Linked DNA regions of Homo sapiens. The protein of the gene in region 2 purifies or fractionates together with the protein of the main gene of each other region. This does not show direct contact. Each region holds a gene or a part of one and is shown on either strand. Other genes may lie near its edges. The genes, in order: ECD and TTC27.

Region 1 (15,300 bases), on a different chromosome or scaffold from region 2:
TCGAGACGAGCCTGGCCAACATGGTGAAACCCCATCTCTACTAAAAATACAAAAATTAGCCATGTGTGGTGGCCCATGCCTGTGGTCCCAGCTACTCGGGAGGCTGAGGCAGGAGAATCACTTGAGCCCAGGAGGTAGAGGTTGCAGTGAGTGTGATTGCACCACTACATTCCAGCCTGTGCGACAGAGTGAGACTCTGTCTCAAAAATAAAATAAAATAAAATAAAATAAAATAATAAAAATAGAAGTATAGAGCTAGAACGATATATAACAGTATATAAAATATGCCATGTCTTGTGTAAAAAAGGGAGAAAATACAAGTATATATTTCTATAGTTAGATTATGTGTAAGCAAACTCTAGAAGGATATACAAGAAACAGCAGTGATGCATGTAGGGTTGAGCAGATAGGGACAAAAGTAGGAGGGAGACTTTTTTATTTTGTAACTTTTTTTTTTTTTGAGATGGAGTTTCGCTCTTGTTGCCCAGGCTGGAATGCAATGGTGCGATCTCGGCTCACCGCAACCTCTGCCTCCCAGGTTCAAGCAATTCTCCTACCTCAGCCTCCCGAGTAGCTGGGATTACAGGCATGGGCCACCACGCCTGGCTGATTTTTTTTGTATTTTTAGTAGAGACGGGGTTTCTCCATGTTGGTCAGGCTGGTCTTGAGCTCCTGACCTCAGGTGATCCGCCCACCTCGGCCTCCCAAAGTGCTGGGATTACAGGCGTGAGCCACTGCACCTGGCCATGTAACTTTTAATACATTTTTTTAAAAAATGTAACCATGTGAATGTATAACCTATTTTAAAAAATTAAATTTAAAAAAGTGATACGGGCCGGGCGTGGTGGCTCACACCTGTAATCCTAGCACTTTGGGAGGCTGAGGTGAGCGGATCACTTGAGGTCAGGAGTTCGAGACCAGCCTGGGCAACATGGCGAAACCCTGTCTCTACTAAAAATACAAAAATTAGCTGGGCATGATGGCGGGCACTTGTAATCCCAACTACTCAGGAGGCTGAGGCAGGATAATTGCCTGAAAACAAGAGGTGGAGGTTGCAGTGAGCCGAGATCATACCACTGCACTCTAGCCTGAGTGACAGAGCGAGACTCCGTCTCCAAAATAAAAAAAAAAAAAGTGATGCAAATGAGGCAGAAATAATTATCTTTTCAGGCCCAAATAACACCTCCTACATGAAGGCTTTTCTAATCTCAGCTATGTGTTTCTTTTTTTTCTTTTGGAACCCTATAGTACTTTCGTATATTTTCATATTTTTGTCTAATATTTCTTTATGTAAATTGCTTATCTTCTCTCCTTATCATATCTACCTTCAACTCCTCCTTACAATCTTACAGTCTCCTTCAGTGCTTAATGTTATCTTAAATATTTTGCTTTCTTATAGCCATCTGCACATAGTACATACTCAAATATTTACTAAGATGAAGAGGAAAATGTATTAGAATGAAACTGTTTTGGTTACTAGCAGATATATGCTTTTTGAATGCAAAATTGGAAATTTTCTTGCATTAGGATTGAAGACAATGATGGTGAATTCTTGTTAATAGAAGCTGCTGACTTTCTCCCTAAATGGCTGGATCCTGAAAATAGCACCAATAGGGTAAGTATACCCAAGTTTAGAAAATTTATAGAGATGAAATCATGCTGCATTACATTCATATGTACCTGCAGTTTGCCAGTGCCCACTGTGAAAATTGAAATGTACCGTTTGCAGGTATTTTTCTGCCATGGGGAATTGTGTATTATCCCTGCACCAAGAAAATCTGGAGCAGAATCTTGGTTACCCACCACACCCCCAACAATTCCACAAGCATTGAATATAATCACAGCACATTCAGAAAAAATACTTGCTTCAGAATCTATACGAGCTGCTGTGAATAGGCGCATCAGAGGGTAAGAAAAATATCACTTTCATTGCTAATTAAGGAACCTTTTGGTTTCGTGTAGTTCAGTCTTTCTTTGATTTTTGTTTGTTTTCCTTAAAGCTCTGTTGGAGTTGATCAGTCTTTCTTTGACTATAAAATACCTTTCACCTAGATTAATGCTAATTTTCATTTTGTCTTCATTCCTCTTTATGAAATAGACTAGTAAATTAAACTTACAGATTTTAAAATCAGGAAACAGATACATCTTTAAATTCCCATTCAGAAGTGTTACAATCTTGTCCCAATATTTTTGCATTTATTTACCTTAGATATTGTGGCTAAGTATTAGCTATATCCATGGGTAAAAAATTTGAGACCTTTAAAAATAGAAACTTCATGGGCCTGGAGCGATGGCTCACACCTGTAATCCCAGCACTTTGGGAGGCTGAGCAGGGGGCGGATCATGAGGTCAGGAGTTCAAGACCAGCCTGGCCAACATAGTGAAATCCCATCTCTACTAAAAATACAAAAACAAAATAGCAGGGCGTGGTGGCAGGTGCCTGTAATCTCAGCTACTTTGGAGGCTGAGGCAAGGAGAATCGCTTGAACCCGGGAGGCGGAGGTTGCAGTGAGCTGAGATCACGCCACTGCACTCCAGCCTGGGCGACAGTAGGAAACTCCATCTCAAAAAAAAAAAAAAAAAAAAAAGTAGAAACCTAATGGAGCACAAACAAGGTGCTCAGGTTTTTTCTGTTGTTCTGGGTCTGTATATGGGATTCTTTGACCTATGTCAGAATTCAGTTTCTGAATAAAACTTTAGCTTTTATTCAGAAAAGAAAGGTCTTAGCCTAATTACATATTCGTTCATCCATTCAAATTTGGGTGCCTATTAAATATTAAGCACCATTCAGGTATTAACAATATTAAAAATATTTTTGGCCGGGCGCGGTGGCTCACGCCTGTAATCCCAGCACTTTGGGAGGCCAGGGCGGGTGGATCACAAGGTCAAGAGATCGAGACCATCCTGACCAACATGGTGAAACCCCGTCTCTACTGAAAATACAAAAAATTAGCCGGGCGTGGTGGCAGGCCCCTGTAGTCCCAGCTGCTTGGGAGACTGAGCGCAGGAAAATCACTTGAACCTGGGAGGTGGAGGTTGCAGGGAGGTGGAGGTTACAGTGAGCCGAGGTTGCACCACTGCACTCCAGCCTGGCGACAGAGCGAGACTCCGTCTCAAAAATAATAATAAATAAAAAATAAAAATCTCTTTTAGCTTCAGCATACTTTGTACCATTCTTTTAGAAGAATAAACTCTGATTTTATCTTTATTCCAAAGTATAATAGGTATTTTTGTTTTGTTTTGTTTTTGAGATGGAGTTTTGCTCTTGTCGCCCAGGCTGGAGTGCAGTGGCGTGATCTCGGCTCACTGCAACCTCTGCCTCCCGGGTTCAAGCGATTCTCCTATGTCAGCCTCCCGAGTAGCTGGGACTACAGGCGTATGCCACCACGCCCAGCTAATTTTTTGTATTTTTAGTAGAGATGGGGTTTTACCGTGTTAGCCAGGATGGCCTCAATCTCCTGACCTCGTGATCCACCCGCCTCAGCCTCCCAAAGTTGTTTTGTTTTTATAGAGCTACAATAATCCCTTTTCTTTATTTTCCATTTCTTCCTACTTTTTTCTTTCCCTCTCTCGTATATTCTTAAGTGTATATACAGTATCTTTTTTCATCTCTCTTGTCACTCTCTACGTACTGCTCTTGATGAACAAAGAGATGTCAAAAAGAATGTGAATGGTATAAGAATTATAGGTATTTATATACTGTAAAATGAAAGTAATTATGTTACCTGTCCCAGGTACCCAGAAAAAATTCAGGCCTCACTTCATCGAGCACACTGCTTCCTTCCAGCTGGCATTGTGGCAGTGCTAAAGCAGCGCCCCAGATTGGTGGCTGCAGCAGTCCAGGCATTTTACCTACGAGACCCTATTGACCTGCGAGCTTGTCGTGTTTTCAAGACATTCTTGCCTGAAACACGAATAATGACATCGGTGAGATTTCTATCTTGGTCATTTAGTTTCTCTTACTGGAAACCGAGTTGAAACATTATTATTTTTTTCTTTTTACATTTCTCAGTGCTCAGTGAATGAAACATTATTTTAATTGTTCTCTAGAAAAAAAAGGAAATATTCTGTTTCTTCATAGCATGTTAATATAGATTGAATATTCCTTATCTGAAATGCTTGGGACTAGAAGTATTTCAGATTTCAGATTTATTTGGATTTTGGAATATTTGCATTAAACTTACTACTTGAGCATCCCAAATCTGAAAATTCTGAAATCTCAAAACTTTGAGCATATCGTTGGGACTCAAAAAGTTTTGGATTTTGGAACATTTTAGATTTCAGATATTTACATTTGGGATGCTCAAACTATACACGTTTTTTCTTTTCTTGCACCCAGTGAAGGAAATTTTCAAGAGACCTGCCTCCCCATTTTATACTCAATGTTTTATAGCTATTTTTGACCATATGTTTCTATTTCTATAATTATTTCCTTTTTTTTTTTTTTTTTTTTTTTTGAGACAGAGTCTCACTCTCTCACCCAGGCTGGAGTGTAGTGGAGCCATCTCAGCTCACTGCAACCTCTGCTTCCTGGGCTCAAGCGATTCTCCTGCCTCCCGAGTAGCTGGGATTACAGTCACCTCCCAACACGCCCAGCTGATTTTTTTATTTTTAGATGGTGTTTCGCCATGTTGGCCAGACTGGTCTCGAACTCCTGACCTCAAGTGATTCACCCACCTCAGCCTCCCAAAGTGCTGGGATTACAGGTGTGAGCCACCGCACCCAGCCTAATTATTTCCTTCTTAACAATAAAACATTTCATCTCTTCCAGAGAATTAAGAATTATTCTTGGCCGGGCATGGTGGCTCACACCTGTAATCCCAGCACTTTGGGTGGCCAAGGCAGGTGGATCACTTGAACCCACGTGTTTGAGACCAGACTGGGCAACATGGTGAACCCCATCGCTACAAAAAATAAAAAAATTAGCTAGGTGTGGTGGTGGGCGCCTGTAATCCCCGCTACTTCGGAGGCTGAGGTAGGAGGATTGCTTGACCCCAGGAGGTTTGGGAGGCCAAGGTGGGCAGATCACCTGAGGTCAGGAGTTTGAGACCAGCCTGGCCAGCATGGTGAAACCCTATCCCTGAGGCTTCAGTGAGCCATGATTGCTCACTGCACTCCAGTCTCTGCAACAGAGCAAGACCCTGTCTCAGAAATAGAAAAAATGAATTATCTTTATCTTCCAGCCATTTAATTGCTGTATAATGTAACTAATGATAAGAATTTTACTAGCGATTACTAAAAAGTAGGCAGTAGGGTAAAATTTTTTTTGCAACAGTGTCTTGCTCTGTTGCCCAGGCCGGAGTGCAGTGGAGCAATCTCAGCTCACTGCAACTTCCTCCACCTCCCGGGTTCAAGCAATTCTCCTGCTTCAGCCTCCCGAGTAGCTGGGATTAGAGGCGTGCGCCACCATGCCTGGCTTATTTTTGTATTTTTAGTAGAGATGGGGTTTCACCATGTTGGCCAGGCTGGTCTCAAACTCCTGACCTCAGATGATCTGCCCACCTTGGCCTCCCAAAGTGTTGGGATTACAGGCATGAACCACCATGCCTGGCCAGCAGTAGGGTAAATTTTATGGTATGTGAGTTGTATCTCAATAAAGCTGTTACTAAAAACAAGTAGGCAATGAATAGGTTGAATCTTCTTTGCATTTCATATGAATATGAAGCTTATAAATGGACTTCTCATTATATTTAACTGTGAAGTGTTATTCACAATCTTAATTTCAGGAAAAGACTCATGTATTTTGTGTCTTGATGCCCAGGTCACATTCACTAAATGTCTATATGCACAATTGGTGCAACAAAGGTTTGTGCCAGACCGGCGGAGTGGATACAGGCTGCCTCCTCCATCTGATCCCCAGTACCGAGCCCATGAATTGGGCATGAAATTGGTAATGTTGAACCAGAAAATGTTGTTTCCTTTCTTTATGTAAATGGACTCTTAATAGAATAGTGGCACAATATACAAAGTCCAGAAATACACCCTGTTTATGTAAGAATGCAGTAAAATGTGGCATTTCAAATTAGAATGAAAAAAATGGATTACTTAGTAAGTGATGATGGGACAAGTCTGAAGTCATCTGAAAAATTGAAGTTGATTCCCTAATACCTATACCAAAATAAATTCCAATTGGATCAAATATTTGAACATAAAAATTGAAACTATACAATTTGAAAAAAAACCAAGAACCTTTTATAATTTGAATAGGAAAGGCCTTTCTATGCATGACTTGAAACCAGAAGCTATAAAGGGAAGACTGATGAATTTGATTATGCAAAAATTAAGCATTTCTGCACGGGAAAGAAAAACTCCATAAATAAAGTCAAAAGCAAATCTGGAAAAAGTGTTATATTTGCAATCTAAATGAAAAAGAGCTGACTTCTCTAATACATAAAGTGTTCCTTTAAGTCAATATGAAAATGATAATACTAGCCAATTAATTTTAAAATGTTCAGAACTATGAACATAGTCCACAGAAAAGGAAATACAGGTGACCTTTAATTTAAACATATGAAAAATATTGAATCTTAACTCATAATAAAAGAAATGCACTTTAAAGCTACAAAATAGTGTTTTTCTTTTTTTTTTGTTTGCTTTCAAAAATGTTACAATCTAGACATTGATAGGAATGTCTAGATTTTCTTTTTTTTTTTATTATTATGCTTTAAGTTTTAGGGTACATGTGCACAACGTGCAGGTTTGTTACATACGTATACACGCGCCATGTTGGTGTGCTGCACCCATTAACTCGTCATTTATATTAGATATATCTCCTAATGCTGTCCCTCCCCCCTCCCCCCACCCCACAACAGGCCCCGGTGTGTGATGTTCGCCTTCCTGTGTCCGTGTGTTCTCATTGTTCAATTCCCCACCTATGAGTGAGAACATGCGGTGTTTGGTTTTTTGTCCTTGCAATAGTTTGCTGAGAGTGATGGTTTCCAGCTTCATCCATGTCCCTACAAAGGACATGAACTCATCATTTTTTATGGCTGCATAGTATTCCATGGTGTATATGTGCCACATTTTCTTAATCCAGTCTATCATTGTTGGACATTTGGGTTGGTTCCAAGTCTTTGCTATTGTGAATAGTGCCACAGTGAACATACGTGTGCATGTGTCTTTATAGCAGCATGATTTATAATCCTTTGGGCATATACCCAGTAATGGGATGGCTGGGTCAAATGGTATTTCTAGTTCTAGATCCCTGAGGAATCGCCACACTGACTTCCACAATGGTTGAACTAGTTTACAGTCCCACCAACAGTGTAAAAGTGTTCCTATTTCTCCACATCCTCTCCAGCACCTGTTGTTCTCTGACTTTTTAATGATCGCCATTCTAACTGGTGTGAGATTACCATCTCATTGTGGTTTTGATTTGCATTTCTCTGATGGCGAGTGATGATGAGCATTTTTTCATGTGTCTTTTGGCTGCATAAATGTCTTCTTTTGAGAAGTGTCTGTTCATGTCCTTTGCCCACTTGTTGATGGGGTTGTTTGTTTTTTTCTTGTAAATTTGTTTAAGTTCTTTGTAGATTCTGGATATTAGCCCTTTGTTAGATAAGTAGATTGCAAAAATTTTCTCCCATTCTGTAGGTTGCCTGTTCACCCTGATGGTAGTTTCTTTTGCTGTGCAGAAGCTCTTGAGTTTAATTAGATCCCATTTGTCAATTTTGGCTTTTGTTGCCATTGCTTTTGGTGTTTTAGACATGAAGTCCTTGCCCATGCCTATGTCCTGAATGGTACTGCCTAGGTTTTCTTCTAGGGTTTTTATGGTTTTAGGTCTAACATTTAAGTCTTCAATCCATCTTGAATTAATTTTTGTATAAGGTATAAGGAAGGGATCCAGTTTCAGCTTTCTACATATGGCTAGCCAGTTTTCCCAGCACCATTTATTAAATAGGGAATCGTTTCCCCATTTCTTGTTTTTGTCAGGTTTGTCAAAGACCAGATAGTTGTAGATATGTGGCATTATTTCTGAGGGCTCTGTTCTGTTCCATTAGTCTATATCTCTGTTTTGGTACCAGTACCTTGCTGTTTTGGTTACTGTAGCCTTGCAGTATAGTTTGAAGTCAGGTAGCATGATGCCTCCAGCTTTGTTCTTTTGGCTTAGGATTGACTTGGCAATGCAGGCTCTTTTTTTGTTCTATATGAACTTTAAAGTAGTTTTTTTCCAATTCTGTGAAGAAAGTCATTGGTAGCTTGATGGGGATGGCATTGAATCTATAAATTACCTTGGGCAGAATGGCCATTTTTACGATATTGATTCTTCCTCAAAATAGTGTTTTTCATCATTTATTAGCAAGTATCAAACGGCTTGATAATACATACTGGGTTGTTGAGAATATATACAGAAAAACATTCTCAGACATTGTTGATAGGAATATAAATTGATTGTATCCCTTAGGAGAACATTTTGGCAAAACAGATGTTCCTTGACTTACAGTGGGGTAACTTCCTGATAAACCTGTCAAAAATTGAAAATATCATAAGTCAAAAATATATTTAATACAGCTAACCAACCAAACATCATAGCTTAGCCTAGCCTACCTTAAATGGGCTCAGAATACTTACATTAGCATACAGTTGGGCAAAATCATCTAACACAAAGGCTATTTTATAATAAACTGTTGAATATGTCATGTAATTTATTGAATACAGTATACTATAGAGTACAGTATTGGTTGATTGCCTTTGTGATCACATTGCCAACTGCAGCTTGCTGCCACTGTGTATCCAGCATCATGAGACAGTATGCATATTGCTAGCCTGCAAAAAGATAAAAATTGTAAGTAAGGTTTCTACTGAATGCATATTGCTTTCACACCATCATAAAGTCAAAAAATGTTAAGTCAAACCATCATAAGTTGGGGACCATCTGTATTCATCAACATTTAAAATGCACAAACCTTTTTAGTCAGCATTTTCACTTCTAGAAAATGATTCTTTATGTATTTTACCTATATACAAGGACATATATGGAGCATAGTCATGACAGCATTGTTCATAGTAGCAGGAGACTGGAAACTACTTAAATGTCCATTAGTAGGGGAATAGTTAGATAAATTGTGCTCTAGCCATGAAGTAAGATGGATGAATTTGTGTGTGCTCATGTAAGTGATCTCCAAGGTATATGGTTAAGTGTAAAAAGCAAGGTGTAGAGTAGTGTGTATGCGTCCATTGAGCAACAAAAGGGGTGGAGTAGAAAGCTATGCATACAGAGAGGCACACACATAATACTTCAGTGTGTAGGTTACTTCTGAAAGGATGTGCAAGAAGTTGGTAATGGTGTTCTCTAGCTTGATCAGGGAAGCTCCCTGTTTGAATTATTTAGCCATGTGCATCTATTATTTTTTTTAATCAAAGGACTTTTAAAATGAAGTGATTTCCTCTCTTTACTATGTCTGAGATCATGTTCAATATATGTATAATTTCTGTTGGACAAGAAACCTTTTGTAACCCTGTTCATAATCAAACAAAAAATAAATGTAAATTTCTGGTTTTGTAATCAGCAGGAAAAGGAATCTCTTTGAAGAGAACAGGAATCTTTATTGTATATTATTTTCTTTCCTTTTATGTTTTTAGTAATCTATAATGATTGAGAAACTTGGGAATAAGTTTATATTTTTCATAAAATTCAAAAAGTGTTATAATTGTCCAAATGCCCATGTATCCAGTCATCTAGTTCTAGAGTGTGGCTCAATGGAAAAAAAGTAATGTGTTATAATAAGATACGGGAAAAAAGGAACTTAGTAACAAAAATTCTACCTATCTCATCTAGGCTCATGGATTTGAGATCTTATGCTCCAAATGTAGCCCACATTTTTCTGACTGCAAGAAATCCCTTGTGACTGCCTCACCACTCTGGGCCAGTTTCCTTGAAAGTCTGAAAAAGAATGATTACTTTAAGGTAGGACTTGCAATATATTTGCTTTTAAGTATTCAATCCAGGGAAAATCAAGCCAGCGACTTAAAGTCCTATAGTCCATATTTAAATGTATGACATAATTATGGAAGCTAGACTTAAAGGAGACCTTTCTAGTTCAGTGGTACTCAGGTGCTAATGAAGGAGGTATCTATGAACTGTTTCCAGTATTAGAGAAAAACTAACACTGTTGGTATTAAATGATGAAAGTGATTATCTGTACCAGATAAAACAACTTGCAAAAACTTGATAATGCAAACATGAAAACACCAGATAGGAAAATTAGCAAAGATGTGGATTTTAAAAATTATTAAAAGATACCTAGTAAATTTCTCTTAAAATATTCAACTTCACAAGTAGTAAAGATATATATATATATATATGAACACAGTAATGAAGAATGTCTTTCATGTATGTACAAAAGGATATGAATGATATTCTGTGCTGTCGAGAGTATGGTAAAAATAACACTCCTATACCTTGCTGGTAACATTGCAAACTGGTAGAATCTTAACTGGAAAGTAATTTGGTAGTGTCTTCCAAGAGGTATAGAAAGGTTCAAACTTGGAACCTTCACTTTGAATAATCTTTTTAAAGGAAATATCCAAGAAGTGGAAAAGTCCCGAAGAATATGATGATGATAAAGATGGCACAGCAATACGAAAAGTACTAATGATATTATAGTATATATATGGTATTTTTTTTTTTTTGAGATGGAGTTTTGCTCTTGTCGCCTAGGCTGGAGTGCAATGGCACAATCTTGGCTCACTACAACCTCTACCTCCTAGGTTCAAGCGATTCTCCTCAGCCTCAGCCTCCTGAGTAACTGGGATTACAGGCCCACACTACCACACCCAGCCGATTTTTGTATTTTTAGTAGAAATGGGGTTTCACCATGTTGGCCAGGCTGGTCTCGGACTCCTGACCTCAGGTGATCCATCCGCCTTGGCCTCCCAAAGTGCTGGGATTACAGGCGTGAGCCACCGTGCCCAGCTATTACTGTTGTTGTTATTGTTGTTGTATAGGGTCTTGCTTTGTCACGCAAGCCAGTGTTGTGGTAGGATCATAGCTCACTGCAGCCTCGATCTCCTAGGCTCAAGTGATCCTCCTGCCTCAGCCTTTCAAATAGCTGAGACTAGGCATGTGCCACCATTGCCTGGCTAAAGATTGTTTTTTTTTCTTTTTAGTAGAGTCGAAGTCTTGCTATGTTGCCCAGGCTGGTCTCAAACTCATGTCCTCAAGTGACCCTCCCACCTCTGCTTCCCAAAGTACTGAGATTATAGGCATGAGCCACAGTGCCCAGCTAGTATATTCTTAAAAAATGTAAAATACTAAGTATGACTATCACTATAAATATGCATTTAGAAAACACAAATGATAGTAATGGTGGGATTTTGCCATTTTTTATTCTACTTGGCAAACTTTCTGTACTTTGTTTTGTGAATTACTAGTTAATCAGCTATATCTTTAATTTAATTTTTTTTTTCATAGAGGCAGGGTCTCACCATGTTGCCCAGGCTGGTCCTGAACTCCTGAGCTCAAGCAGTCTGCCCATCTCATCCTCCCAAAGTGTTGGGATTATAGGCGTGAGCCATCGCACCCAGCCAATTATATCTTAATAAGTAATTAAGTAAAAGAAAATGGTGGAAAACTTTCCAAACTGGAAATAGGCCCTTAATGGTGGAAAAGATTAGGAATCACTACATCTAGCCGCGTCCCCTCATTTGAAGAAACTGGAGCTCAAACAGGCCCATTAATGATAAAACAGGGCCTAGGACTTGGGGCACGTGATTCCTGAGTAGTAGATTATTTGCTGCCTCCCTGAAAGTTGCTGGTGAACACATTTTTTTCATGACAACTTGTGAGTAATGTTCTGATAGACCTTTTTTTTTTTTTAAGGGACTGATAGAAGGTTCTGCTCAGTACCGGGAAAGGCTAGAAATGGCAGAGAATTACTTCCAGCTCTCAGTAGACTGGCCAGAAAGGTGAGTTATTGTTAAGACTCCTACTACAAAGATTGGTATTTAGGTAGTTCTTTTTATTTTTTATTTATTATTTATTATTCTTATTTATTTATTTTTTTGAGACGGAGTCTCACTCTGTCACCCAGGCTGGCAACCTCCGCCTCCTGGGCTCAAGCGATCACACCACTGCACTCCAGCCTGGATGACAGAGTGAGACTCTGCCTCAAAAAAGAAAAAAAAAACAACGAAAGAAATTTTGCATCCTCCTCTATGTAATTTTACTCATCATGATATCACATTTTCCATGGCATTATGAAGTCTTTATAAACATAATTTTTAAAAGCTGCACAATATGGCCAGGCGCGGTGGCTCACGCCTGTAATCCCAGCACTTTGGGAGGCCGAGGCAGGCGGATCACGAGGTCAAAAGATCAAGACCATCCTGGTCAACATGGTGAAACCCCGTATCTACTAAAAATACAAAAATTAGCTGGGCATGATGGTGCGTGCCTGTAGTCCCAGCTACTAGGGAGGCTGAGGCAGGAGAATCGCTTGAACTCAGGAGGCGGAGGTTGCCGTGAGCTGAGATTGCACCTGGGGACAGAGCGAGACTCCATCTCAAAAAAAAAAAAAAAAAAAAGCTGCACAATATTTCAGCAAATGGATGTACCCCCATAATTTACTCAACTATTTTTTACTGTTGGGGAAAAAATTACAAGTAGCTTAAATGTCCAACATTTTAATTTATGTTGCAGGAGAGGCTCCCATTCTGCACACCAGGATAATTTTTAAACAGTTTAAAACCAAACTTCCATCTCCCTCCAGACCTGTTGTTGAATTCCCAAAGTTTGTGGTTTTTTTAAAATAGCTGAATTAATATCGTAGACTTTTATTTTAGATTTACCTTTCATTTTCACTTTTTTTCATTTATTGTTATTATTATTTATTTATTTATTTTAGACAGAGACTCGCTTAGTCACCCAGGCTGGAGTGCAGTGCTCTGCCTCCCGGGTTCAAGTGATTCTTCTGCCTCAGCCTCCCAAGTAGCTAGGACTATAGGCATGCACCACCAGGTCTGGCTAATTTTTGTATTTTTAGTAGAGATGGGGTTTCACCATGTTGGCCAGACTGGTCTCAAACTCCTGACCTCAGGTGATCCACCCACCTTGGCCTCCCAAAGTGCTGAGATTACAGGCGTGAGCCAATGCACCCAGCCATTAATTTTTTATTTTTAATTATTGTGGATACATACTAGTTGTACATATTTATGGGGTACATGTGATTACATGTATAATGTCCATGTGGCATACAATGTATAATGATCAAATCAGGGTAATTAAGCTTTCCATCACCTCAAGCATTTATCATTTCTTTGTGTTGGGAATATTTTTAGTTATTCCATTTTTTTAAGGTATTTGGAACTATATAATAAATTATTATTAACTGTAGTCACCCTGTTGTGCTACCAAACACTAGCTCTTTTTAATTTTTTAAAAAATATTTTTTGGGATTTGCCAGGAAGATGTTACTAAAAAGCATTCCAGATCCAGACCCCAAGAGAGGGGTCTTGGATCTCATGCAAGAAAGAATTTTGGGCAAGTCCATAGAGTAAAGTGAAAGTATGTTTATTAAGAAAGTAAAGGAATAAAGAATGGCTACTCCATAGGCAGAGCAGCAAACACTAGCTCTTATTCCTTCTATTTAACTAATTTTTGTAACCATTAACTATCCCCTCTTTTCCCCCCGCTCTCTGCTACCCTTCCCAGCCTCTGGTAACCATCATTCTACTTTTATTATTATTATTATTTGAGATAGAGTCTCACTCTGTTGCCTAGACTGGAGTGCAGTGGTACAGTCATAGCTCATTGCAATCTTGACCTCCTGGGTTTAAGAGATCCCCCTACCTTGGCTTCTCAAAGTTCTGGGATTACAAGTGTGAGCCACTGCACCCAGCCAGCCATTATTCTGCTCTCTGTCTCTCAGTTTAGAATTGTTTTTAGCTCCTACGTATAATATCATAGACTTTCCCCTAATTTATCAGAGATTGTAATAGTGAAAAATTATAAGCAACCAAAGTATCCATCAATAATGGATAAATGAATTGCAGTGTACTTATATGATAGCCTGCTATCTAGTAGTTAACCAGAGATGAACTATATTTACATATATCTGATTTAGGATTTTTCAACCTCAGTGCTACTGACATTTTGGATCTGATAATTTATTGTGAGGGACTGGCTTGCACTTCATAGGACATTTAACAGCATCCCTGGCCTCTATCCAGTAAATATCAATAGCACTTCTCCCTCATCCCCCAATCATGACAACCAAAAATGTCTCCAGACATTGCCAGAGGTACCTGGGCGGCAAAATCGTCCCTGGTTGGGAACCACTGATCTAAATGGGAACCACTGATCTAAATGAATAGATTTCAAAAACATAATGCAGTGAAAAAAAAAAAAAAAGCAAGTTATAAATACGTACAGTAATGGGTACCAAAAAAAAAAAAAAATAGAACGAATGAGTAAGACCTACTATTTGATAGTACAACAGGGTGACTATAGTCAATGATAACTTAATTATACATTTAACATAGAGTGTAATTGGATTGTTTGTAACTCGAAGGATAAATGCTTGAGAGGATGGATACCCCATTCTCCATGATGTACTTATTTCACATTACATGCCTGTATCAAAACATCTCATATACCCTATAAATATATACACCTACTATGTACCCACAAAAATTAAAAATGAAAATGAAAAAGAATAAAATATATACCGTGTGGATGTTACACATATAAAAATTTTAAATATACAAAATACTATACAGGCTGGGCGCAGTGGCTCACACCTGTAATGCCAGCATTTTGGGAGGCCAAGGCGGGTGGATCACGAGGTCAGGAGTTCAAGACCAGCCTGGCCAATATGGGAAACCCTGTCTCTACTAAAAATTCAAAAATTAGCTGGGCGTGTTGGCACGCCCCTGTAATCCCAGCTGCTCGGGAGGCTGAGGCAGGAGAATCGCATGAACCCTGGAGGTGGAGGTTGCAGTGAGCCGACATCGCACCACTGCACTCCAGCCTAGGTGACAGAGCAAGACTCCGTCTCAAAACAAAACAATACATTATTTATAGATACATATATATTCATTTATTCAACAAATATTTATTGAATGCCTCCTATGTGCCAGGCCCTATTCCAGGTACTGGGGATATAATAAATGAACCCAAAGTGTCCTTGTCCTTATAGAGCTTACATGCTAATGTAGGAGAAAGACCGCAAGCCATTATGTAATATTAGGGGGTGGTAAGTGCTATGAAGAAAAAGCAGTGTGTGGGGTAGAGGGGTAGAGACTGCTCTTCTAGATAGATTAGTCAAGGAAGGCCTTTCTAAGGAAGTTTTCTTTGAAAAG
Region 2 (15,779 bases):
TTTAGTAAGACGGAGTTTCACCATGTTGATCAGGCTGGTCTTGAACTCCTGACCTCGTGAACCGCCCGCCTTGGCCTTCCAAAGTGCTGGGATTACAGGCATGAGCCACTGTGCCCGGCCTACTTGCTACACCTAATTCTGAGAAACCAGGTAACACTAGGTCTGTTTTGCTGCACGAGTTCTGGATACAATTTGGTGATTTTGAACATAGCTATCAATCACTCAGCTTTTTCCAGGCTGAGTGGTGGATAGCTACGTTCAAAATCACCAAAGTGGCTGGATAAATCAAAGTTCTTACTTTGATTTAAACCATACTTCTTTTGTAGATCATCTCATACTAGCCAGACCCTCTATATAGGAGCTCAAGATTCCTGAGGAACTCAAACTGCAAGCTCTATTGGCGACACACTGGCACAGATCGATAATATTATCTTCACAATGGATAATAATCACCATGAAGCAATGCTGTGCCAGAAACTTTAATAAAGTATTTGTAATTTAAAGCCACCCCTGGGAGCAAACCACTCCTGGGAGCCATTCTTAAGTACAGTATCAAAACTTACCTGCAAGCCGGGAATGGTGGCTCACGCCTGTAAACCCAGCACTTTGGGAGGCTGAGGTGGGAGGATCACTTAAGGTCAGGAGTTTGGGACCAGCCTGGCCAACATGGAGAAACCCCACATCTAGTAAAAATACAAAAATTAGCCAAGTGTGGTAGCACACGCCTGTAATCCCAGCTACTAGGGAGGCTGAAGCAGAAGAATTGCTTGAACCCATGGGGCAGAGGTTGCAGTGAGCTGAGATCGCGCCATTGTACTCCAGCCTGGGTGACAGAGCAAGACTCTGTCTCAAAAAAAATTAATTAATTAATTAGTTAAAAACTTACCTGAAATAAAATTAAACAGATTTCCAGATTTGCTGCTTTGCCATTAAAGATCTTTATGTACAGCGCTCACACCTATAATCCTAGCACTTTGGGAGGCTGAGGCAGGCAGACCACTTGAGCCCAGGAGTTTCAGACCAGCCTGGGCAACATGGCAAAACTCCATCTCTACAAAAAAATTAGCTGGACATGTTGGCATGCAACTGTAGTCCCAACTACTTGGGAGGCTGAGGTGGGAAGATCGCCTGAGCCTGAGTAGGTTGAGGGTGCAGTGAGCTGTAATCCAGCCACTGTACAACAGCCTGGATGACTGAGTGAGATACCATCTCAAAAAAAAAAAATCTTTATGTAACTGAGGTGATACAACCAACTAAACAACTGGTGCAGCTGTCTGTACTTTCATTAAAAAACACAGCTAACACAGCTCCATAAAATGGAGTGTGTATGAAGAGGAGTTTGACAAAGGAACTTCTGGAAATCTGTGAAAATCTGATCAATGAACAAGCATTCTTAGTACTTTTGTGCAAACCATAAAGTCATGTTTCTTTCCTACTATGAGTTCCAGTTTATAAAGACCTGCTTATAAAAAATAAATAACATAATAATAATTACATACAACATTTTCAAGAAGCATACCTCACTGAATTGCTGGAACAAAACAGATGACAAAAAGTCCTGAGGGTGTAAGTCAACAGGGGGCCCCGTCCAGTTGCTCTGAACAAAAAGTTGCAAACTGCTCACACCAAGTAGAAATATCAACTGTTGTCTGCATATAAGAATGGTTAAAGAAATAAATATGAACTACTATCACTGTATAATCTCAAACACACTATTCCATTTCAGTTTTATTAAGAAAATAATATCTATCAACATTTATTGAGACTATCCTAGAGTATTACCAAAAAAAAAAATTTCTAAAACTTAAAACAATTTAGGTTAGCTAGGCACAGTGGTTCATGCCTGTAATTCCAGCACTTTGGAAGGCCACGGTAGGAGGATCATTTGAACCCAGGAGTTCAAAACCAGCCTGAGAAACATAGTGAGACCCTGTCTCTACAAAAAAATTAAAAGTTAGCCGGCATGGTGGTACATCCCAGCTACTCAAGAGGCTGATGCATGAGGATTGCTTGCAGCCCAGGAGTTTGAGGCTGTAGTAAGCTTTGATCATAGCACTGTACTCCAGCCTAGATGATAAAGCGAGACCCTGTCTCTCTTAAAAAAAAAAGAAATTAGGTCTACAATATCCAATATTATAGCCACGAGCCAAACATGGTTTAAATTTGCATTAGTTAAAATTAATAAAATTTATAATTCAGTTCCTTAGTCATACTTTCCATATTTCAAGTGCTCAATAGTTAAGTGTGGCTAGTGGCTACCATGTGGGCAATGAAGATAGAGAGCACTTCTATCTCCACGGAAAATTATCTTGAACGGTGTTGATTTAGGTTCTGATCAGACATCTATAAGTTTTTCTTGCACTCCCTTTAACAGCTCTGATGTTGCAAGATGTATAGAAAACTGACTTTATACAAAAGAAAAGTGATGATATAAAGTTGTTGCTAATTGTTTACCAATCCCATACCACCAAATGCTAGAACAACAACAACAACAAAACATATAGATATTTTAGTGAAAACTCTATTTTTCAGTCTTGCTGTGATGTGAGACAGGGATAGGCAAACTTTTTCTAAATATGAAATATTTTAGGCTTTGCATATCATGTTTGTTTTTTTCCAACCCTTTAAAAATGTAAAACCCATTAATTCTTAGCCACTTAGTTAGCCTGCCAGCCATAATGTGCCAAACCCTAAATTAGGATCTAAATAGGTACAGATCCAACTCTAGCAAATAACAGCCAGGGAATCCTGGAGTTTCATTCTGAAGAGAAAGTATTAGTAATCACTTTTTTCCCCACAGCCCCTAGGCCCTTCCTTAAAAGGAAGAGTCTTTCAGAAAAAGAAAAAAAAAAATCAAACATACAAGCCTATGGTAGCAAAAATATAAAACTCTGGATGCAATGCAAATAAGCAGCATTAGAGAAAAAAGATAACAAAAGAGCTGGTATGCAATCAGAAGTTTGGAAATTTGGAGAAAACAGCCTTAATAAACTGTCCTAATCAAAAAACAAAATCCATAAGGTGAACTGAAAATACACTTTAACTTTCAAATGTCTGAAAATGAGTCAACTGAAATGTCTCTTTTTAGCTTTATGTGACAAGATAGAAATCTGGTATATCAGTGAATAATGCATTTGTGTGAATGTGTTGTTTTAATGGGTGCCACAAGGCTAGTTGCTATGAGAGTGCACACATATAAGAAAGCAATGAGAATCCAGCCGGGCGGAGTGACTCATGCCTATAATCCCCACACTTAGTGAGGCAGAGGTGAGGATTGCTTGAGCCCAGGAGTTCGAGACCAGCCTGAGCAACATATCAAGACACCATCTCTACAAAAAGGAACTAAAAAAAAAAAAAAAAAAGAATGATACCAAAGGAACATAACTACCAGTAAACTAAAAAAAATTAAATGGAGGCTGGGCGAAGTGGCTCACGTCTGTAATCCCAGCACTTTGGGAGGCCGAGGTGGGCAGATCACCTGAGGTCAGCAGTTCAAGACCAGCCTGGCCAACATGGTGAAACCCCATCTCTACTAAACATACAAAAAAAATGAGCCAGGTGTGGCACAGGCCTGTAATCCCAGCTACATGGGAACCTGAGGGAAGAGAATCACTTGAACTTGGGAGGCGGAGGTTGCAGTGAGCCGAGATCACGCCTCTGCACTCCAGCCTGGGCAACAGAGTGATACTCCATCAAAAAAAAAAAAGAAAAAAGAAAATGAATAATATTAATTTTCAAAATAAAATTAAAAGCCTGTAGTAGCATTCTTTTGCAAACTCCTTATGAATATGGGTTATGCTTTATTCATCCTCAGAACCTCCACATCTACTACAATAGTTTATTTGTTGAAGGACTAAATGAAGCTATTTCCTAGAAATAATGGTAAAATAAAATTGCATGCATTTATAAGATAATTAAAGCTTGACATGGTTGCCACAGATAGTAGACGAAAGATAGAGGTATCAAATTTATAACAATGAAATATAAGCCACTGAAAAGCTTAGGTTTCCCTGCTGTGTAACTATCTGCTATACTTAACCCTATAAAATTACACAAACTTTAATGGAAGAAGGTAAACCAAGGGCTTCCTTACAAAAACATTAAGTTCTCTGAGCTCTATAAAGATAATAATCTAAAACATAATAAATAGTTACAAATTAGCACTCAGCTATGCAGAAATAACAAGATTGAAAGTATGTTTTTTGTTTTTTGGTTTTTTTTTGAGACAGAGTCTCGCTCTGTCGCCCAGGCTAGAGTGCAATGGCGGGATATTGGCTCACTACAACCTCCACCTCCCAGGTTCAAGCGATTCTTCGGCCTCAGCCTCCCTAGCAGCTGGGATTACAGGCGCATGCCACCATGCCCAGCTAATTTTTGTATTTTTGTATAGACGGGGTTTCACCATGTTTGCCAGGCTGGTCTTAAACTCCTGACCTCATGTGATCCGCCCGCCTCGGCCTCCGAAAGCACTGGGACTACAGGCGTGAAGCACTGCACCCAGCCTGAAAGTATGTTTTTAAGTTAAAGGAAATAAGGTCTGAAGTTTTGCCGGTGGGTAAAGCCGACCAGACCTAAGCATTTGCAGTTAACACCAAAATATGTGCCAGTCTCATATATGAAACCATTTTATCCTGCACCACTTTACTTCTTCATTCTGGATGGACTTCTGGATGAGTTTTTACATAGATTACTTGGTACACCATGAGTCTTGAGTAAAATATAAGGCAAGGTTTCTCAACTGCTAAAATCAGGGCCTTACCCTGTCAAGGTGCTATTAAATGTATTTGCTCTGTTCCTCTATGAAAATTTCAAATAAAATTCTACCTTTCCGTTGTGTCCAAATCTGTTGAGTAATCCAGGAATGTTACTACCTGCTTCTCCAGGTAGCTATCAATCTTTTCTTCAGCGGTTGTTGTTGAATTAAAAATATTTTGAGTCATTGAATTTAAGAATATGGCTTCATAGTTCCCTTCCAGTAGCAATTGTAGGAAAGATCCACTCTCTGTAATATAAAAAATTAGTGCGGTAATCCAAAAAAAATTATTTTTCATACCGTAAAGGATAACACTATTAGGTAAATCTACCATTTTAGTGTGCAAAAACAATCTATAGACTTAGAATGATTACTGTATGTCAGTCACAAGGCACTCAGTAAATTTCCATCATTCTACAAACATTCTCTCTCCTAGAATTAGCAGCTCACTCATACTGACTATGAGCCCCAAAGTGGAAGTCAGCCCCAGAAATAATATTCCTCATTAATAGGTATTTAGTCTTTTGCTGGGAAATTCACAAAGATTCCTACTGACAATACAAAAGTTTCCTTAGTCAAGGTTCTAAAACTTTTCACAATCTGGTTCTTTCTACCTCCATTATTTTCTCTTCTTGAAAAGTCACTCCAAGAGCGCTGGTTTACTCATTGTTTCCCTAATGTCCCATGCGTATTCCTGCCTCCACACTTTGCACTTGTGATATCGCCTGTTGAACTCTTCTCCACTTGTTAGTCTTACCCTTTAATCCAAAATCAGCTCAAGTCTAACTTCTTCTAGGAAAGTTTTCCAGGCCACCAAAGTTCAAACTTCCTGTCACTGGAAGCACCTACTGTGTCACACAAGTGCCCACACACACACACATACACACAGAGTACTTACACACTACACTGTTCATTATTACTCTTTTGGGTCCAGCCTAAATCCCACAACCAGATGTGCCAGTGCATGTGCCTTTTAACTCTTTATCTCTCTGGTAAATATTCATTGCTCACAAGAATTAATCTTTGCCTCCTAGGCTGGGCGCGGTGGCTCATGCCTGTAATCCCAGCACTTTGGGAGGCCGAGGTGGGTGGATCACGACGTCAGGAGATCGAGACCATCCTGGCTAACACGGTGAAACCCCGTCTCTACTAAAAATACAAAAAAAAAAATTAGCTGGTCGTGGTGGCAGGCGCCTTTAGTCCCAGCTACTCGGGAGGCTGAGGCAGGAGAATGGCGTGAACCCGGGAGGTGGAGCTTGCAGTGAGCCGAGATCGCGCCACTGCACTCCAGCCTAGGCGACAGAGCGAGACTCTGTCTCAAAAAAATAAAAAAAATAAATCATTGCCGCCTAGGCCGTGCATGGTGGCTCATGGCTGTAATCCCAGCACTTTGGGAGGCCGAGGCGGGTGGATCACCTGAGGTCAGGAGTTCCAGACCAGCCTGACCAACATGATGAAAGCCGTCTCTACTAAAAACACAAAATTAGCCGGGCATGGTGGTGCATGCCTGTAGTCCCAGCTACTTTGGAGGCTGAAGCAGGAGAATCGCTTGAACCGGGGAAGCGGAGGTTGCAGTGAGCCGAGATGGCACCAGTGCACTCCAGCCAGAGCAACAAGAGGGAGACTCCATCCCCCCAAAAAAACAACTTTGCTGCCTCATTTTAGCTCCTCTGCTTACCAACAGTGTGACCTTAAATAAATTACTTAACCAGACCCGGGCGCGGTGGCTCAGGCCTGTAATCCCAGCACTTTGGGAGGCTGAGGCAGGCGAATCATCTGAGGTCAGGAGTTCCAGACCAGCTAGGCCAACATGGTGAAACCTCGACTCTACTAAAAATACAAAATTAGCCGGGCGTGGTGGCGCATGCCTGTAATCCCAGCTACCCTGGAGGCTGAGGCAGGAGAATCACTTGAACCCGGGAGGCGGAGGTTGCAGCGAGCCGAGATCGCGCCATTGCACTCCAGCCTGGGCAAAAAGCAAAACTCCGTCTCAATAAATAAATAAATAAATAAATAAATAAATAAATAAATAGATAAAATAAAATTACTTAACCCAACTGTATTTACAGATCTTCACCGCAAAATGGGATTAAAAATTGAATCTACCTTAAGTATCTACTATAAGCATTAAATGACTGAGTACATGTTAAGGGCTTAGAAAAATAACTGACATTGCCATTGTCATTATTACTGAACCTGGGCGGTAAGAAGTTTTGCGCAAAGAAAGTGAGGACCACGCCCACCATGTCAAAGACTAAACGACCCAAAGCCTCAAGGAATCAGCTAGACTGTGTTAGGGAAAAATGAAGGGAGGGATGAGAATCAGTCGCTGCCATCCCTTTTCCTCACAGTTCCCACGATAGCCTAAGGCCCGGTAGGTGCGCCTCTCACCTGAACCGACGACCCCCTCCTGTTTCCATTGCTGCCGCTCAGCCTCAGTGGGGAATCCCCTCAGAATTGCCAGCTCCGGGGTCCACATCACCCCAGACACCGCTGCAGCCAAAACAGGCTCCCACGAGGGCCACACGGGAGTCAACAAAAGAAAGTGAAAACAGGAGAGTCCAAAGGCGCTGAAATCTAGTGGCGACAGTTACCGTAAATACACCTGCGGCCCTAGAATTCCATGTGCGGATACTACCTCAAGGAGGCGGCCATAACAGCAGCGCGGGGCACCCTGGGAAAAACACGCACGCTCTCTGGTCTGGCTTCCGCCTAGGAGAAGAACCCGAGCTTGAGTAAGGAGCCTGTTGGGTGGTTATGCCCCACCCCGGGGCGGGCAATAGGGGGAGTTGAGGGCGCGGTCGCGCTCAGCCCCGCCCCCAGTGGGACCGCTTCCAAGAACTGTGAACGTGGAAGTGAGTGTGCCTCCCACCGAGGGCTAGGGTTCAAATGCAACTCAAAACGGACGTCTTGGCCAAAGCAGTTTGATTAGAAGGGCTAGAGTTGTGATTCTTAAAGCATTTTGGGTTAGAACGCTCTCGACAACCCGATGAAAACCACAGTCCTTCGCGCAGAGTGCAGGTGGGCCCTTGCTCTCAGCCTAAGGGTACCCTCTCAGGGAATCACAGACCCTCTGACGTGGAGTCGGTGAAGCCCAGGTTGGAACCCCGTCAGCATAGCATGGGTCTTTCGGCGAATGAGCGTGTAAGGAAAGGATCTGGTTTTGACACTGCTCTACATGAATCATGGCCGGGTGGGAAATCTGCCCCTGCCGCTGGTGCAGGGAAGTTTTTGGAACACTGTCGGAACGCTGTAGAAGAGTGATCCCAGGGGTGATCACAAAGAAATTGCAAGGAGACAAACCAGCCTCCGCTGGTACCTTATTTGCACTTCTTTGAATCTTCCTAGCAGCACTCCAAAGAAACAGTTAGAGGGCGGGCGCGGTAGCTCACGCCTGTAATCTCAGCACTTTGGGAGGATGAAGCGGATGGATCACCTGAGGTCAGGAGTTCGAGACCAGCCTGGCCAATATGGTGAAACCCGTCTCTACTAAAAATACAAAAATTAGCCGGACGTAGTGGGGCACCCCTGTAAACCCAGCTACTCGGGACGGTGAGGCGGGGGAATTGCTTGAACCCGGGAGGCGGAGGTTTCAGTGAGCTGAGATGGTGCCACTGCACTCCAGCCTGGGCAATAGGAAAGAGGGAGGGAGGGAGGGAAGAAGGAAGGAAGGGAGGGAGGGAGGGAAGGAGGGAAGGAAAACAGGACTATGGCTTTGTCCCATTGGCTTGACACCTGTACTGAGATATGTCATGTAAGAGCCAGGAGAAAACTGCAGGGTAACTCTGACCACAAGAGCAAAAGCTCTCTGAAAAGAGGCTGACCCGGTACCCAGCTCCAAGGAAGAAGCTAAATAAATGTTAATTCACTTTCTTACTCAGTAAAGAGCCACTCCAGAATGTGAAGGGAGAGGAACTCAGCTCAGCTCATTTCAGCCATTGCCATCAGATACCAAAGGAAGCCGGACCTGACTGTGATTGGAGAAGAGCGGATGCCCTAAAATGTCCTCCCACTGAGAAGTAATTAAAAACTGTTTTTCAGGCCGGGCGCAGTGGCTCACGCCTGTAATCTCAGCACTTTGGGAGGCCGAGGCGGGCGGATCATGAGGTCAGGAGATGGAGACCATCCTGCCTAACAAGGTGAAACCCCATCTCTACTAAAAATATTTTTTTAAAAAATTAGCCGGGCGTAGTGGCGGGCGCCTGTAGTCCCAGCTGCTCAGGAGGCTGCCGCAGGAGAATGGCCTGAACCCAGGAGGCGGAGGTCGCAGTGAGCCAAGATCGCGCCACTGCACTCCAGCCTGGGCAGCAGAGCGAGACTCCGTCTCAAAAAAATAAACAAACAAAAAAAACCCCACTATTTTTCTAGAAAATGATACTTGACCAGGTTGTCTGTTCATTTCCTTAAGTATAAAAGCCAGCACTGTCTAAACTAATTTGATAATTGTTAAAGATGAACGTCTGTAAAAACACACTGGCCGCTCTGCCAAAGTTCCTCACCTGTATGTAGCACCCCGTTAATCCACATAGTAAACTTGCAACTTTCAGTTAAATTCAAGGTTGGTTTGTTTTAAATGTGGTATGCTAGATGATGATGGTGACTGAAGTCTGCCTAATCTCCCTTCAAGCAAAGTGAATTCCAGTAATAAAGTAGGTGGGGAATATGGTCTCGATTAAAAATATGTACATAGTGAGTGGAAATTGAGCAGGCAATGAAATATCTACTGTAGGATTCAGTATAGAATGCCTTGGCTGACGAGTCTATTGGGATCCTGTATGTCACTATCTAAAAGTCTTTTTTTCTTGGGCTGGTCAGATTTCTCCAAAAGACTCTTTAAATCTCCTACCTGGAAGGTGAGGCTCTGGCTGCCACAGTTCCAGGGCCCAGTGGAGATAGAAAGCCAGAAGTCTCCATATTCAAGACTAAGAATGAGGTAAGTGAGAGATACTTTTAACAGAATTTAGGACTATCCTTGGCTTATTTTATGCCTCTAATCCATGTTGTTTCCTTTCTCGTCTCTTATGTCAAGTAGTTCCCAACCTATTACAAAATCTCATCTTCTCTAAACTAGTGATTCTAGCTAAATGTTTATAGTAATGTTTGGTCTACAGTAAAAAATAAATACAATTATAACACCTCTATTTTGAAATACTGTGTGACAAGGAAACAAGGTTTTGCATCGTTTCTTCCAAAAGGAGAAAAAATAGGAAGGAGGATGGCTGGAGATGTAAATTCAACAAGTATTACAAGAGGCTAGGAGATTGGAGAAAATAATGGTGCCATGGGAGCATCAGAGGGGTCAAGGAGGACCAGATCAGAGTTTGGTTGCACTGACTAGAAGGAAGCACAGGGCAAGGACTGGCTCACTCTCTGAAGGAAAGCGGTGGTTGCAGGGCCATTGTTCCGAGGCACACAGGGTTTGGAAAGAGCAGGGGACCAACGGTGTCAGAAGAAGGAAGAATTGTTATGTCAGGAGAAGCCTTCTGGAGAATATTGGTCTTGGGAGACCAGATTTTAAGCTTCATACAACAATTTTATAAAAAGCATTATTCAGGTATAATTGGCATAAAGTGCACATATTTTAACTGTACAATTTGTTAGGTTTTAATTTAGGTATGTACCCATGAACCATCACCACAATCAAGACGGTGAACACATCCATCACTCCTCAAAGTTTCCTTGTTCCTCTTTATAATCCGGCCCTCTTGCCATCCCCATCCTCTACACTCCAAGCAACCACTGATCTGCTGTCACTATTGATGAGTTTGCATTTTCTAGATTTATATAATGGAATCATACAGTATATACTTTTTTTCTGGCTTCTTTCACTTAGCATAATTATTTTGATATTCTTATATAGTACGTATCAATGTTCATTTAAAAAATATAACTGAAGAGTATGTATTGTATGAATACATCACAATGTTTATTTATTCATCTGTGGAGGGATGTTGAAGTTGTTTCCGGTTTTTGGCTACTTCAAATAAAGCTGCCACAAACATTTGCAAACACTGTTAAAAATTATTATTAAATGTGAGCTCTGTTAATGAATATGAAAGGAGATGGAAGGGTCATGAAATGCTATTCGCAATCCTGACTTCCTTATGCTTGAGCTAATGACAAATCCAGCCTCCCTTTCACCACTTAAAAAGATAGGAGACAGAATTAGTTCAAACACATGGCTGGGTGTGGTGGCTCACTTCTGTAATCCCAGCACTTTGTGAGGCCAAGGCGGGCGGATCACCTGAGGTCAGAAGTTTGAGACCAGCCTGGCCAAGATGGTGAAACGCCGTCTCTAATAAAAAAATTAGCTGCACGTGATGACACACGCCTGTAATCCCAGCTACTAGGGAGGCTGAGGTGGGAGGATTGCTTGAACCCGGGAGGTGGAGGTTGCAATGAGCCGAGATTGCACCACTGCACTCCAGCATGGGCGACAAAGCAAGACCCAGCTGGGTGTGGTGGTGCACACCTATAATCCCAGCTACTCGGGAGGGAGGCTCAGGCATGAGAATCGCTTGAAGCCGGGAGGCAGGGGTTGCAGTGAGCTGAAATCATGCCACTGCACTCCAGCCTGGGCGACAGAGCCGAGGCTCTGTCTCAGAAAAAAAAAAGTTTTACATCTTAAGTCTCATAGGTGCTAACAGATACTAACAGAAGAGGGGAACTATTGTTTGAGTATACTGAGGACTGGGCGCGGTGGCTCACACCTGTAATCCTAGCACTTCAGGTGGCCGGGACGGGCGGATCACGAGGTCAGGAGATGGAGACCATCCTGGTTAACATGGTGAAACCCCACCTCTATTAAAAATACAAAAAAGTAGCCAGGCGTGGTGGTGGGTGCCTGTAGTCCCAGCTACTTGGGAGGCTGAGGCAGAAGAATGGCGTGAACCCGGGAGGTGGAGCTTGCAGTGAGCCGAGATCCCACCACTGCACTCCAGCCTGGGCAACAGAGCAAGACTGTCAAAAAAAAAAAAAGAAAGAAAGAAAAGAAAAATAGAAGATGGGGTGAGGTGGGGGTCACCTGCTAGAAGCAAGGGCAGGCTGATTGAAGGGAGGGGTAGTTGGTATGCTTCCGTATCTCCATAGTGTGATGCTTTTTCCCTAGCAGTTGGCAAATTGAGACCAACTGATAGAGATTAAGTTATCAAGTACTAAACATAGGGTCTAGGACATAGATACCAAAAAATGTTAGCAATTCTTAGCTAAGTATTAGGGGTTCCTCGTTTGAGGCAGACGAGGGTATAGTTTTCTCATTGCGAAATCAGAAGCCAGATGATTGAAGAGTATAGGCTTTTCCTAGAGCTGCATGAAGTCTTCTCAGGGATCTGTCCTTCCTTGGCTCACAATCTAAGGTGATCGCTTCGGCTCAGAGACTGAAATTGGTGATAACTGGAAGACTCCCAAAATACAATTGAAATGATGAATATTATTTATTTATTTCATTAGACTGACAGCTTCCTGGGGGTAGGGTCAGACTCTTACATGACATTTTATCCCAAGAATCCAGCACATTGCAGAGCAGGTACAAGTGCTCAGAACAAGTTAAGGCACTATCTTTCCTTGGTAAAGAGGCATTTACAAATGACACCTAAGGGTAGGTGAGCTTCAGGCCTTTCTAAGCTCTCCCTTGCTAAACTCCTTTGGGAGATTAACTTTGCCCTTTGGGTCAAAGGAAGTATTTGCCTTGCTTCAGGAAGTAACTGCTACCTTTGGGGTATGGAGACAACCAGGGGGAAGATTTTTTTTTTTTTTAAACCAAAACTAACATATGAGTGATTTGGGCTTGAAAAAATATTTTTTCTCATTTGTGAATTTATATCAAAAAATTCTGACAAAGTCTTATAAAAAGAGAAGAAAAAAAAAAACCCAACAGGACAAATATTTGAAAATTGGCCAGGCTTGGGAAATCTCATACTTATCTGGCAAGAAGGGCAATAACAAAAATAGCAGCTCCCAGAAAGGCGGCACAGAGGAGCTCTAGCTGGTTCCTCTAAAGATGAGAAAAGCTCCAGAGCTGGAAGGCACTCTATGGCTGCATTTGCTGACTTTGCAGACAGCAAGGTGAAAAAGGGAAGGAATAAACCAAAGAACAAAACCTATAGAAAGGCTGGGGGAAAGCAACAGCAAGGAACAGAAGTGGTAGGAATAAGAACGAGGGAAATGCCTGTCTACCTTTTGACCCAGAGGAGTACAGGGAGGTGGGGAGGGGCAGTATCCTGGGGACCCCAGCAGGCAGAAGTGTCTAACCTGAGGCCGTAGGTCTCCCAGCGGCCCAGGGCAGCCTGCAGCTGACATAATTGGACTGGGTATTCCCTCCCTGGAGAAGTGAGACGTGAATAAAACTGAAAACAATTAAAATGGTGGTGGGCTGCAGTCTCTTCCTGCACAGGAAAACAGCTAGTGCAACCTGAAGAGGGACACACATGAAGGAAGCAATGGAAAGCAGACTTTTGGTGGAGCTCATGGGAGCACTACGAGATCACATCCAGGAACTAAGGGAGAAAGAAGGCCAGAGAATGCCTCTTCTATACAGGAAATGTATAGGCTCACAGGGTTCACGTCAGCCCCTTTAGAGCTTGAAGCATCAGGAGGCTAGAAGCTGAGAGAAAGGAGGCTTGGATGGCTGCTAGAAACTGGGCAGAGTTTGAAGAGGAAAGAGAAAGCAGGATGGAGCTTCCTTTCAACATGGCTTGTATCTTCCATCCACATGTGGACTCTGGCTTGTCACCACCATACCTGCCTCTGCAGGGTGCGAGATGGGAAGCAGCTCAAGCCTGTTGCAATTCAGTTGCAGCGAAGCCTGTAACAATACCAAAAATCAATCTCAGTTAGAAAATATATAGCCTTTTTTTTGCCTTTGCATAGGGAATAACTTCAAAGGAATAAAATGCAATTAAAATCAGAAAGGAACAGATCAATAGATGACTTCACGATTTAAATTTTTTTTTTTTGAGACGGAGTCTCGCTCTGTCACCAGGCTGGAGTGCAGTGGTGCGATCTGGGCTCACTGCAACCTCTGCCTCCTGGGTTCAAGCAAATCTCCTGCCTCAGCCTCCCAAGTAGCTGGGACTACAGGCGCCTGCCACCACGCCCAGCTAATTTTTGTGTTTTTAGTAGAGATGGGGTTTCACCATGTTGGCCAGGATGGTATCGATCTCTTGACCTCATGATCCACCCACCTCAGCCTCCCAAAGTGCTGGGATTACAGGAGTGAGCCATTGCACCCGGCCGGCCCCACAATTTAAAACTTCTATGAGAAAAATTAAACAAAAATTAAAAGGCCATCTGGACAAATACACAGAAGTTTGACAAAAACTAATATTCTACTATAAGTAGCTGATACATACTAAAAGACTCTAAGAAAATACACAAAATAGGGAAAAGGTATAAACTGGTAACTGACAAAAGTAGAAATTCAAATGGGTAATATAAACAATGTTCAATGCACATTAAAACATGTTTGATGATAATAAAATATCAGATCAAAAAATTATATAATCTCCAATGCTGGCCAACGCATGACAACACTAAAAGATTTTCCAAGTGTGAATCAGTACCTCTCAGGAAAGCGGTCATTATATATCAAAACCTTTGACCTAGGAATTCTACTTCTAGGATTTATCATAAGAAAATAAAGATAAGACCATGCTCATCACAGCATTAGTTATAATCAGAAAAGCAGAGACAAAAGCAATTCCAAACTGTCCAACAGTAAGAGATGGGTTAAAAACATCCATTAATTTTCTTTTTAAGACACGGTCTTGCTGTTGCCCACAGTGGAGTGCAGTCACGTGATCTAGGCTCACTACAGCCTCCATGTCCTGGGCTCAAGCAATCCTCCCACCTCAGCCTCCCGAGTAGCTGGGACCACAGGCATGTGCCACCATGCCCAGCTAATTTTGCTATTTTTTGTAGAGACGGGGTTTTGCCATGTTGCCCAGGCTGGTCTCAAACTCCTGAGTTCAAGCAATCATTCCGCCTCAGCCTCCCAAAGTGCTGGGATTACAGGTGTGGGCCATCATGCCCAGCCTACAGTACATTTTACATTTGTCTGACTTTGGAGATTTTTGTCTTAATGCTAGGAAAGTATTTAAGCAGTTTTACTTTTTGTTTTTTTACTGTTCATTAAGATAAAAACTTTATATAGTTAAAAGTTTCACAAATAGACCAATTCACTTTACTGATTTTCACATCTCTTCAAGTTCTCCGCATGTGCTCTTGGACCCAGGTCATTTATGTCTGTTAGGCTTTGCTCCATCCTTCCCCAAGGACTTCTCCCCTGGCTCCCTAGCCTGAAAACATGCTAAAGTTATTCTCCTAACAAATATATGTATTTCCCAAAGTCCTGTCAATTGTCTCTTAATCTCCACAGTTTATGTGCCCTAGTTTATGACCTATTGCTTGGATGTGAGCAGGCTTTTAACTGATCTCCTCGCTTCTCAACAGGTTGCAGAATGATCTTCCTGAAATAGACTAATCAGGTTACTTCCTTAGAGCTACTTGTGAGCTCTCCTTTACCTACAGGAAGTCAAAGTTCCTTAACAGGGCAAGCAAAGGCCTGGGATGAACTGACCCCTCCTCTCTTTCCAAAACCACTGCCTCCCATCCCTTTTGACTATCCTCACTTTGCCTGTTAAAAATCCAGTAACATCCAATATGGTGCCATCAACCTGAGCTCTCCTTTTGCTCTCCTGTGTCTGGATTATCTTGTTTCTGCCTGGCTAACTTCTTTATCCTCATCCTTCAAGAATTAGTCTGCACTTAGAAAGCTTTTCCAGACCATTATCACCTCAGTGCCCACCCAACGTTTTGCCTGAGATAAGGATTCTCCTCTGTGCTCCCAATATTACCCTGTAAATAACTCTACCAGAGACCTTACCAGATGGCACTGACATGTTTTCATGTCTGTCATTCACTCCTCAAGTGCAGGAACTTGGAACTAGTAAAAAATGAGTGCTCAAATGTTTGTTGACATAAAGTCTGGATCTCAAATGGAATGTTTTAATGTAATTGGTTCCAATTT

What was found.
Region 1: the proteins of TTC27 (region 2) and ECD purify together in Homo sapiens (affinity purification with mass spectrometry; 2 studies listed by BioGRID and IntAct, with this or other methods). This does not show direct contact.

Annotation. Positions count from the first base shown.
Region 1 is NC_000010.11:73,142,883-73,158,182, reverse strand, and holds part of ECD (protein ecdysoneless homolog), read left to right. Parts: intron 1-1,527; coding exon 1,528-1,615; intron 1,616-1,729; coding exon 1,730-1,908; intron 1,909-3,734; coding exon 3,735-3,927; intron 3,928-5,761; coding exon 5,762-5,890; intron 5,891-6,477; exon of another isoform or gene 6,478-8,464; intron 8,465-8,571; exon of another isoform or gene 8,572-9,713; intron 9,714-9,778; coding exon 9,779-9,907; intron 9,908-11,821; coding exon 11,822-11,907; intron 11,908-15,300. UniProt on the Homo sapiens protein: Regulator of p53/TP53 stability and function. Inhibits MDM2-mediated degradation of p53/TP53 possibly by cooperating in part with TXNIP. May be involved transcriptional regulation. In vitro has intrinsic transactivation activity enhanced by EP300.
Region 2 is NC_000002.12:32,619,746-32,635,524, reverse strand, and holds the start of TTC27 (tetratricopeptide repeat protein 27), read right to left. Parts: upstream 7,476-15,779; 5' UTR 7,233-7,475; coding exon 7,145-7,232; intron 5,003-7,144; coding exon 4,825-5,002; intron 1,650-4,824; coding exon 1,520-1,649; intron 271-1,519; exon of another isoform or gene 194-270; intron 1-193.